3 linked regions of the Homo sapiens genome follow. The gene in region 1 interacts genetically with each later gene. Each region holds a gene or a part of one and is shown on either strand. Other genes may lie near its edges. The genes, in order: TMEM131L, PTAR1 and GBF1.

Region 1 (3,657 bases):
CTTTAACTTGATTTCAGTTTTGTGGTGCGTTTAACAATGTGAGGAGGAAAACTTTTTCTATTGTTAAGACATCTTATGTTGTTTTAATGTAAATATTTCTTTTGTAGGAGTATGATGTGTTGTCATTATTTTGCCTTGTGGCTAAAATCAAAACAATTAAAAGTTCATAAAGATGACTCTTTTATTTTCAGGTTCACTCCAGACTTTACCTCCTCCTGGGTAATTCGGGACCTAAGTCTTGTAACCGCAGCGGACCTAGAATTTCGCTTCACTCTCAATGTGACTCTCCCTCATCACCTGTTGCCCTTGTGTGCAGACGTGGTTCCAGGACCCAGCTGGGAGGAGTCATTTTGGAGGCTCACGGTCTTCTTTGTCAGGTAAACCACTACTGTCTCCCTTGTTCTCTCACTGAGTAGAGAAGTCATCCAGGCAAGTTGTGTGAAAACGTGAACTGCCCGAGTGTAGTCAAAGTATATGAATTGAGTGGAATTGTTACTGCTTCAAGAACTGTGACATCCATGAAGTATTCACTGGTACACTTTAAGGTTATAGTAAACTAATCGTAAGAGAGTCATAGGACCTAGAAGTATCATAGACAGTTGTGCTCCATATATAGTGTGTTCATAGGCAGTCATGGTGGATGATATGAATGTTAATTACTTGTGTTAGCTCATGCAGTGATGATTTGAGATTAGGAGGCTGGAATGACCCTTTTTGAGTGATTTCATAAAAATGGAATTGTAATGTCAAATTTATAAATATGCACAATTTTGGAAACTTTTGTGTGTGTGTTTAAGGAACATCAGAAATTATGTGATAAATCTTAGGGAATTTTAATACTGCATCTTCAGATGTTTTTCGTAAATCATTCCCCACTCTTCTGTAATGAAACTAGTCTTTTGAATGCCAGTCAGAACCATGCAATACTGAACCTTGTTGCTTTCTTCCTCAGTTTGTCCCTGTTGGGTGTGATTTTAATAGCCTTCCAACAAGCACAGTACATTCTCATGGAATTCATGAAAACAAGACAGAGGCAAAATGCTAGCTCCTCTTCACAGCAAAACAATGGTCCTATGGATGTAATCAGCCCCCATTCTTACAAGTAAGAATTCTTATAGTGTGGTTGGGAGCGGGGGCGGTTTCTCACTTTTGATATTACTCATTTCTGATTTAATTTTAAGTAAACATAAATTTTGATTCTACATTTGCTTTCATAAAATTTTAAGTCATTATGTGAACAGCTGCCCCATTATTATTATGAGATAGTCTCCATGCAAGGACTTAGTTGATGGGTATTCTCATTGGCAGAAAACTCTTGGAGCTTTGGAAGAAGGGAAGGTAAAACTTACACTCAGTACTGATTGCTACCCTTTTCTCATGGATATGGAAGCAGACAAGTAGAGTTTGATTTGATTTGCCTCTATGCTAAATGTTTTTCTTCTTAAATTCAGAAGCAATTGCAAGAACTTTCTCGATACATATGGCCCCTCTGATAAAGGCAGGGGGAAGAACTGCCTTCCAGTGAACACTCCCCAAAGCAGGATCCAGAATGCTGCAAAGAGGAGCCCAGCCACCTATGGTCATTCTCAGAAGAAGCACAAATGCTCAGTGTATTACAGTAAACACAAAACCAGCACAGCTGCGGCCAGCAGCACCAGCACGACTACTGAGGAAAAACAGACTTCACCCCTGGGCAGCTCACTGCCTGCTGCTAAAGAGGACATTTGCACTGATGCCATGCGTGAGAACTGGATCAGCCTCAGATATGCAAGTGGCATAAATGTCAACCTGCAGAAGAATTTAACCCTTCCCAAAAACTTACTGAATAAAGAAGAAAACACACTGAAAAACACAATTGTTTTCAGTAATCCTTCTTCAGAATGTAGTATGAAGGAGGGAATACAGACATGTATGTTTCCTAAGGAAACTGACATTAAAACTTCAGAGAACACAGCCGAGTTCAAGGAACGGGAGCTCTGTCCACTGAAGACCTCCAAGAAACTACCTGAAAACCATTTACCAAGAAACTCACCTCAGTACCACCAGCCAGACTTGCCAGAAATTTCCAGGAAAAATAATGGTAATCTTTTCATCCCCTTTGATAATTCTCTCCTGTTTGTACCCAGTCTGTTTTTAATGGAATTGTTCTCACCTGTGACCGTTAGTTTTAATTGTGGATGCTGAGTTTTAGCAAAGGTTTAAATATTGAAAAAAGACAAAATGAAAAGTTCAAGACAAGACATCAAGCTTTTAAAATGTTGTGACTAAGAGGTTTAAATTTTAGTACATAAGTTTAGAAGACTATGAATATCATATTTTCTTGTTGGGATGGACATGGACACCTTTTTCTAATTTTATTTATTTATTTATTTGAGATGGAGTCTTGCTCTGTCGTCCAGGCTAGAGTGCAGTGGTGTGATCTTGGCTCACTGTGACCTCCGCCTCCTGGGTTCAAGTGATTCTCTTGCCTCAGTCTCTCGAGTAGCTGGGATTACAGGTGTGTGCCACCACACCTGGCTAATTTTTGTAATTTTAGTAGAGACGAAGTTTCACCATGTTGGCCAGGCTGGGCTCAGACTCCGACCTCAAGTGATCCACCCCTTTGGCCTCCAGAAGTGCTGGGATTATAGGCGTGAGCCACCGAACCTGGCCTAAATTATTTTTTTTAGCTCAGATTTTCAGACTATCTGTAAAAATTAATCAGCCCATGAAATGTTTCTGACTGAACAAAACTTCAGCTATTTTATTTAACAGCTGCCACCATCTCAGGTTGCCTGGCCCTGGTTCTTCTCTAATTGTATTCCTTGGTTAAAAGAAGACAGATGTTCTCATGTACCAAAAACAGTTAAGGAAAATACAAGCCAAAGTAGACTAGGAGGATGACCTCCATTGGGAATTGTCATTATCCTTTAATAGATCCCTTTGGCCTCTAGCATAAGGGCCTGTGCTTATTTATTTTCTTTTTTTGTCCACCCTGACCATTTGAATATACGTATTTCTGTACCTGTTATAGTCAGATTTGTTTTATTTTGTTTGAAATAAGGTCTGGCTCTATCACCCAGGTTGGACTGCAGTGGCGCAATCTTGGCTCACTGCAACCTCCACCTCCGGGGCTCAAGCCATTTTCCCATCCCAGCCTCCTGAGTAGCTGGGACTACGGGCACATGCCATCATGCCCAACTAATTTTTGTACTGTTTTGTAGAGATGGGGTTTCACCATGTTAGCCAGGCTGAGCTCGAGCAATCTGCCTGCCTTGGCCTCCTAAAATGCTGGGATTACAAGCGTGAGCCACTGCTCCCAGCCTATGGTCAGATTTTTGACAATTTTTAATCTGGAAAACTCAGTCACCTTTTGTCTTATTTGAAGCATCTAAATATAACTTCATCTTTTTCACTTCTTGATATTGGAGAAGAGGTACAGAAATATTATGGATTGACTACTTCTGATGAGCTTTTATGCATTTGGTGAAAATCCTCAACTGAATTTTAAATGTTCTGTATAAGGACATTTCTAATTTAAAAGAAAGTTGGAGTCCTCTGAGGGGAATGTGGTCTAGGCAGCTGCACACATGCATTCTTGGTGCATTTAGTCCAACCCGTTTGTACCGTTTCCCCTGGCAGTGGTGCACACGCCTGAAGTGGACTTATGTCTGCAGG
Region 2 (3,151 bases), on another chromosome or scaffold:
GATAGGTCTTTCCCATAACACACTTCTGAAATATTTAAAATTTGAGTTAAAAAAAGTATCCACTTTATCAAACACTTTTTGGAGTCTATCTATGTATTATATTGTGTAAGTAAGACCACTATATCTGGCTTATAACATACAGAAGTGAGACTCAGGATTGAGAAAACATAGGATGTAACACTAAAATAACCGAGTAATTATATGTGCTCTACAGCTTCATTTGAAATGGATGGGAAAAAGCGTATCTAGTCATAATAACTTTTATAAGGCAATTAGTCACTGTTAATACAATTTAAAAACAACTGTGGCGATATCTCTAATTTGTTTTTGACATTTCTTTTATGTTCTAGACATAGTGGCATTTTTATTCTTTCTACAAATGTAGGTCATAAAATTATTGGTTTCATTTAGACAACAGTTCACACCTCCACCCCCCTACCACCATCAAAGCAAATAAAATGGAAAGCTTGGTAGACTAGACTCAAGTTTAAAGCACCAAAAGTAAAAACAAAATCACACTTAACACTCATTTTAGGAGATAAAAGGTTTACTTAGAAATTGCAAACATTTAGCAAAGGTAAGACAAATACTATTTTCCATATTCTACAGAAATACAATACTTTATAGCTGGCTTGGTACATGGTCACATAAGAACAAATCTAATGGAAAAAGAATATTTCATTCTACTTTTCTGCCACTTATCACAGTGTAATAAGTGCCAGTAAGTCCTGGAAGACAGTTGCAGAGGAAGATTAGAATCCCAGGGCTGTTTGTTAATATACATGATTATATTGTAAGAATAATATAAAAACAAAATAGGTAAGATATACAATTAACATGCAATTTAAGCTATATTATTTTGAAGAAACAGGACAGAATTTAGTGAACGCAACTTAAAAATTTGTTAATGTAGTATAATCAGCATATCATGGTATTTTACATGGTATGGAATTATTCCTCCTTAATAATGCTTGGCAAATTGGAACAGGCTGATCCTACTTCTAGAACATATTAAAATGAAGATGAAGGAAAACAAGTGGATAATTCTATTAGATGCTTTTCTAAATATTCTGAATTTTTAAAGTACCATAATTACAGGCCTACCTCACCATCTCCAAAGTTAAAGTCATATTTTATACTCTATGAATCTGTACTGTCCAGTATAGTAGCCCTTAGCCATATGTGACTACTGAGCACTTAAAATGTGGCCAGTCAGAATTGAGATGTGCTGTGAGTGCAAAATACACTCAAATCTAAGACTTAGTATGGAAGAAAAAGAAGATAAGGTGTTTCATTAATAATCTTTTATATTGATTACATGTTGAAATGATATTTTTAATATACTGGGTTACATAAACTGTTATTAAAATTAATTTTGCTTGTTTCTTTTTTAATATGGCTACTAGAAAATTAAAAATTATGTTGTGGTTCACATTATATTTCTGTTGAACAATGTGGACATAGATAATCTACAGTCATTACATTAGCCTTAGAATTTAGCATCATACTTTTAAGCACTCTGGGGTACTAACTTGAACTCCCAGAAACCCATAAGCACACTCTGCATATAAATTATTGCAAAATTCATTCTTATCTCTCTGAAAGATATGCATTTTAAGGGTAAAAAGAATTCACAAAATATTGAATCCTTAACAAATGTCAATTAGTATATGGAGAGAGCTAAAGGACTTCAATGTAGACTGTTACATTGGGGAAAAACAGATCAAGAAACATAGCAGTACAACAGAGGGAAGACCATTAGTCTCTTCAGTAAAATAGTTAGCCAAACTTATCTTTAATGGCCAATGCCTGACCCTGCACCATAGATTATATATGTAACTTTTCCATTTAAACATAAACTATAAGAAAATCTTAAAACAATATTGACGGCAGCTTACTTATATCTTCAAGCAATGTAAAATTAACAGGCATGGTTAATTTTAATGGCAGAATATAGTAGCTGAGAACTTCTTTTAAATGAAAGCTCCTCCATGTTAAATTATGCAATTGACTAGTGTCCACAAAATTCGAGTCAAAAAAAAATTAGACGCTATTAAAATCATAACTGGCCTTTTTTTTTCTCCCTCTCCTTTTTTAATCTTTTGTAGTGTATAAATATTTGGCATACTTATAATACCTCATCTTTTATTTTTTCCAACTCAAAAACAGTAAGTTAATCTAAGAATGCATTCCATTATTTTCCTAAAAACAACATATGCCAAAGTACAATACTGACAGTGGTCACCTCAGTCAGCAGCCAGCATCGAAGTCATGCATCAAGAACCTCGCCAGGAGGCAATGCCTAATTACATTTGTACTATACACTCTGTTCCTCACAGTTCAGGTAGGAATGTTTATTTGTGTTTTATAAAACTGTTTAATCTTTTTACATTAGGTAAACTCTGTCAAAAATGCTTTGAAAACCACAAATTAACAGATGCTGAGACTACTGTATCATTCACAAAAAGTTCTTCCTCATGCCAAAGATGTTCTGAGAAAACAAGCAGAAGTTTATTGTAACTTCACATTTTACCATTACCACTCTTAAGACGCTAGAAACAAGTAAGATTTAAGGAAAAATAAAAAGAACCTAAACCCGATAGTACTGGATATACCAATACAGAGACTGATTGCAGAAGACTACAGCAGTTCTCTCTAGAGTTCAGCCAGCTGCTTATTAAGACATTTAATTACATTTATTAATATGCCTTGCACAAGAAAATACTACTTAATCTTTCACATCTCCTATCTTTCAACTATGTTCTGTATAAATAATACTTCTATTACGTTACTAACTCCAGCTTAAATAAGCCTCATAAATCATGTCAAATGATATAATTTCAAAATTCCACACATATATTACTCTACAAATATACTCCTTGGTGAAAAGATGTCAACAGTCTCCTTTCTGAAAGCTGTTAGTTTGATGTTAGATCAATCACTGACTAAGCATTTATTGAGCATCTACTATAACTGTACCCAGTCTTTAACTAATAAGAAAAAAATACCTGCTCCAAATGCAAGATGATATTTGTAAGGGAGGATAATTTATCAACTTTTTCTAATAGAATGCTCCTTGAATCAATATCTGCCATATGAAATTATATGACAAGTAAACCTCAAATTTATTACCTATCACCTTATAATGATA
Region 3 (3,657 bases), on another chromosome or scaffold:
GAATATCAATTTCCCTTTATTGCCAATCATCTTGCAAGAGCTGGAGATGACAGTAACCTTCAATGACCCACAAGACACCAACTCCCAAGGCTCCTGTCACTGCCACTAGTGACACTTGGCTCTCAACTGGTACAGCATTTGCGCAGGGGCATACATAGGGTATGCTCAACTACATAGCTTAGGAGTAAGGGAAGGGCTTCAAATGGGAGTTGCTGAAGTCCCAACAAGCCCAAAGACTGGCCTCAGGAAGCTGTACAATGAGGTGCTAGACTCTCCTTCATCTTCTGAGATGGAAACCCTACAACACTGGACACCCAGACAGAGGTGGACAGAGGCTGGGGAATACATGTATGTACCTTCTTTTTGTTTTTAATTTCAATTAGTTCCCGTGGATCTGGCAGGAGACAGGAAAATCGGGGTGGCTTCCGGGCAAACTTTTTGTCAGCTAGGAGTAGGAAGAAGAGGGGGGAAATATCTGTAACACCTTTTTTTACCCAGATAAGGACTTTTGGAAGGTCACCAATATACTCCCCAGTTTCAAGAAGGAGCCTCAGAAATCTTGTCCTCACCAGTCTTCCACTTCCCTGGAAGTCCTATCAACTGAGGGTCCATATGTTTGCTTCCCTCTCTCTGAGTCTGAAGGCGAGGCGGGCTACCAAGGCTTGCTTAGTTACTATCCTAGGTGTCTGCTCCCTCCCTCTGCTCTTCACCAGGCCCTCCAGGTGAGGAGCTTAGGGTCATGGACACCCAGTACCCACCCCCAGAGTCAACAGCTTCCTCCAGATCACTGCATCCTGATTTCCCATGTTCTGGTGGCAGCCGCCCTCCACCTGGCAGATGCAGGCCTGGGATGTCTGAGGCCATGCCTACAGCTTTCCCATCGCTGGCAGTTCTCTCAGCTGGTAAGAGAGAAGAAGATACGTGAAGACTTATAGGGTATGAAGCCAAGCAGAGCTGCAGGATAGATCAAATCCCAAGCCCAGAAGACCTGCATGGTTCCTGCACAGGGCGCCAGCCCTGAGCAGGACAAACCCAAGCCAAAATAAGTAGTCCCTGTCCCAGCCAAGCATTAGATTCTCTAATTTAATGAAGAGATTACCCAGTCACTTTCCCTGATCTTCTGCAACCTCAAATTTCAAGGGGGAGCTAGAGAGGACTAATTAGAGTGGAGGCAGATATTGGGGATGAGGGATGGTGGGACCTGGAGCTTTCAGAGACAGAAATCCTATATTCTTTAATCTCTGTTCTCTTCTCTTGCCATAAAGAAATAATAATTCTGTAAAAAACCAAAGTGGGGAGGAGGAAAAAGGGAGAAGGCTATGAGTTCTACTAATCTGCCTGACTGGCCTGTGATTTAAACTGCCAAAGCCCAGAAACAGAATTGGGAGCATCCCAGGGGAAGTGATATGGGGACAGGAAAAACGACTCAGAGAGTAGAGAAGGGATAAGCATAGAACACTGGGTTCATCAAAGAAAGAAATGCCTCTCACTATTGCTAGCTTCTCGGGTGCCATCTACTATCTCACAGCTTGGTCTGGCTGTCTCCTTCTTCTCTTGCTGGGTGAGGCTGTTGAGGACTTTAGCCTGGCAGTGGGCCTCGGTGCTGTCAATCACTGTCAATAGGGCATCAAGAGATAGTAGGTGTGTTGTATAGAGTTGACCAGACACAGGGAAGGCATTCTGGAAAGTAAACAGATCAATTGGACTTGTAGTTAGGAGAACACTTTACACTTTGATCATTTTCTAAAATTTCCAAAACTTCTTCTAACTTGTACATTGCCCTTAGAAAACGTCTTTCTGGCCGGGCGTGGTGGCTCATGCCTGTAATCCCAGCACTTTGGGAGGCCGAGGCGGGTGGATCACAAGGTCAGGAGATCGAGACCATCCTGGCTAACATGGTGAAACCCCGTCTCTGCTAAAAATACAAAAAATTAGCCGGGCGTGGTGGTGGGCACCTGTAGTCCCAGCTACTCGGGAGGCTGAGGCAGGAGAATGGTGTGAACCCGGGAGGTGGAGCTTGCAGTGAGCCGAGATCGCGCCACTGCACTCCAGCCTGGGCAACAGAGTGAGACTCCATCTCAAAAAAAAAAAAAAAAAAAAAAAAGAAAAGAAAAGAAAATGCCTTTCTTCTATTTCCCAGCTCTCAAGTGTTCCCCTCTCTGTATGTAACATCCTCACTACCACCAGGGAGATTTCCTTTATAATGCGTTTTTTCCTAGAAGCCAGTTATAGTGCTCAGCACCTTGGACAGCAGCTTTGTGAGTTCCTCAAAGAGGTTGGAACAGTAGTAGTCACAATCATAGTTGATGTAGAGCTCTGTGACAAAGCTGGGGATGCGCCAGAGCTGCACAATGGCCTCCAGTGCCATCTCCTTCATCTCATAAGGCATCTTGGGGTTCTCCACAGTGATGATCTCCATAAGCTTTTTGATGTACATCTGGCAATAACCCAGTAATTGCCATTTGGGTGGGGAAAGGATTCAAGATAGGAAGAGAAAAAATTAGACAGGAAAAACATTAAACAGGATGCAGAAGCCCAGCCTAGAGGCATGTATTAAGAGACACCCAAAGGTATTCCATCCCCTAAATATATCTCTTCTTTGGCCTCCATGTTGGGGGATAAGGCCTGGCTCTCTACCACATACCTGGTCCCAGACAAGTTGCCTCTTGCCCTTTTGTGCTATGTGAACATGACCTGGTCCTATTTAGAGTTCCTTTTAGCAATTTAGTGACAATGCTGGCTTGACTTACCTACCTGTGTTGCAGAGTAACTGCTGGGCAGAAGAGCTGTCCCTATTCATGGTAAGGTTACCTGGCAGTTCTCATATTTGGGGTCAGCCAGTTTCCTTTGGTCTCCTTTTAACTTTTCCACAAAAGAGGCCAGTTGATTGAACCGAACTCTGGAGGCTAAAAGGACTCTCCTATAGGAAGTCCCTAAATCCTACCCCTGTAGCATGATAGAGCTGGCCCCACTGAAGATGCCATATATCTCCCTATTTTTTTTCCCCCTTTTCTTTCCACATCAAGAAACTCACCTCCATTTGGAACTTGAGGTGCTCTCGCATGCTCTCAAACAGTAGGAAGCATACTCGCAGGGAAGCAGCATAAAGGTTTAGTCGCTCTATGCTGAGTAGCTGGAGATGAGAGCAGGGTAGGCCATGAGTTTTTTTTTTTTTTTTTTGAGGCGGAGTTTCACTCTGTTGCCCACGCTGGAGTGCAGTGGCGCAATCTCAGCTCACTGCAACCTCTGCCTCCTGGGTTTAAGATATTCTCCTTCCTCAGCCTCCCAAGAAGCTGGGATTACAGGCGCACGTCACCATGCCCAGCTAATTTGATATTTTTAGTAGAGACTGGGTTTCACCACATTGGTCAGGCTGGTCTCAATCTCCTGACCTCGTGATCCGCCCGCCTTGGCCTCCCAAAGTGCTGGGATTACAGGCGTGAGCCACTGCACCCAGCCCGGCTGTGAGGTTTCTGAAGCTGACTATGGCTCAACCAAGAGAGGCAGAAGAGGCAAACTGAGTGAAGGTGTCACTGAGGTCCATTGCTTCCAGGGAACTCTACATCTAGCCATTCCTATATTTCTCTCTGGCTGCCAGAGTCCCTGGGGAACTACTGGAACCCTCTTACTAAAACTACTAGCCAACTGGGAGGGAGA

The links.
Region 2: changes in TMEM131L (region 1) and PTAR1 are lethal when combined (synthetic lethality), as found in Homo sapiens cells (one study listed by BioGRID).
Region 3: changes in TMEM131L (region 1) and GBF1 together harm fitness more than expected from each alone (negative genetic interaction), as found in Homo sapiens cells (one study listed by BioGRID).

The regions. Positions count from the first base shown.
Region 1 is NC_000004.12:153,602,351-153,606,007, forward strand, and holds part of TMEM131L (transmembrane protein 131-like isoform 1 precursor), read left to right. Parts: intron 1-191; coding exon 192-377; intron 378-952; coding exon 953-1,102; intron 1,103-1,451; coding exon 1,452-2,080; intron 2,081-3,657.
Region 2 is NC_000009.12:69,708,996-69,712,146, forward strand, and holds the end of PTAR1 (protein prenyltransferase alpha subunit repeat-containing protein 1), read right to left. Parts: 3' UTR 530-3,151; downstream 1-529.
Region 3 is NC_000010.11:102,360,498-102,364,154, reverse strand, and holds part of GBF1 (Golgi-specific brefeldin A-resistance guanine nucleotide exchange factor 1), read right to left. Parts: intron 3,134-3,657; coding exon 3,035-3,133; intron 2,438-3,034; coding exon 2,243-2,437; intron 1,681-2,242; coding exon 1,491-1,680; intron 900-1,490; coding exon 759-899; intron 446-758; coding exon 357-445; intron 1-356. UniProt on the Homo sapiens protein: Guanine-nucleotide exchange factor (GEF) for members of the Arf family of small GTPases involved in trafficking in the early secretory pathway; its GEF activity initiates the coating of nascent vesicles via the localized generation of activated ARFs through replacement of GDP with GTP.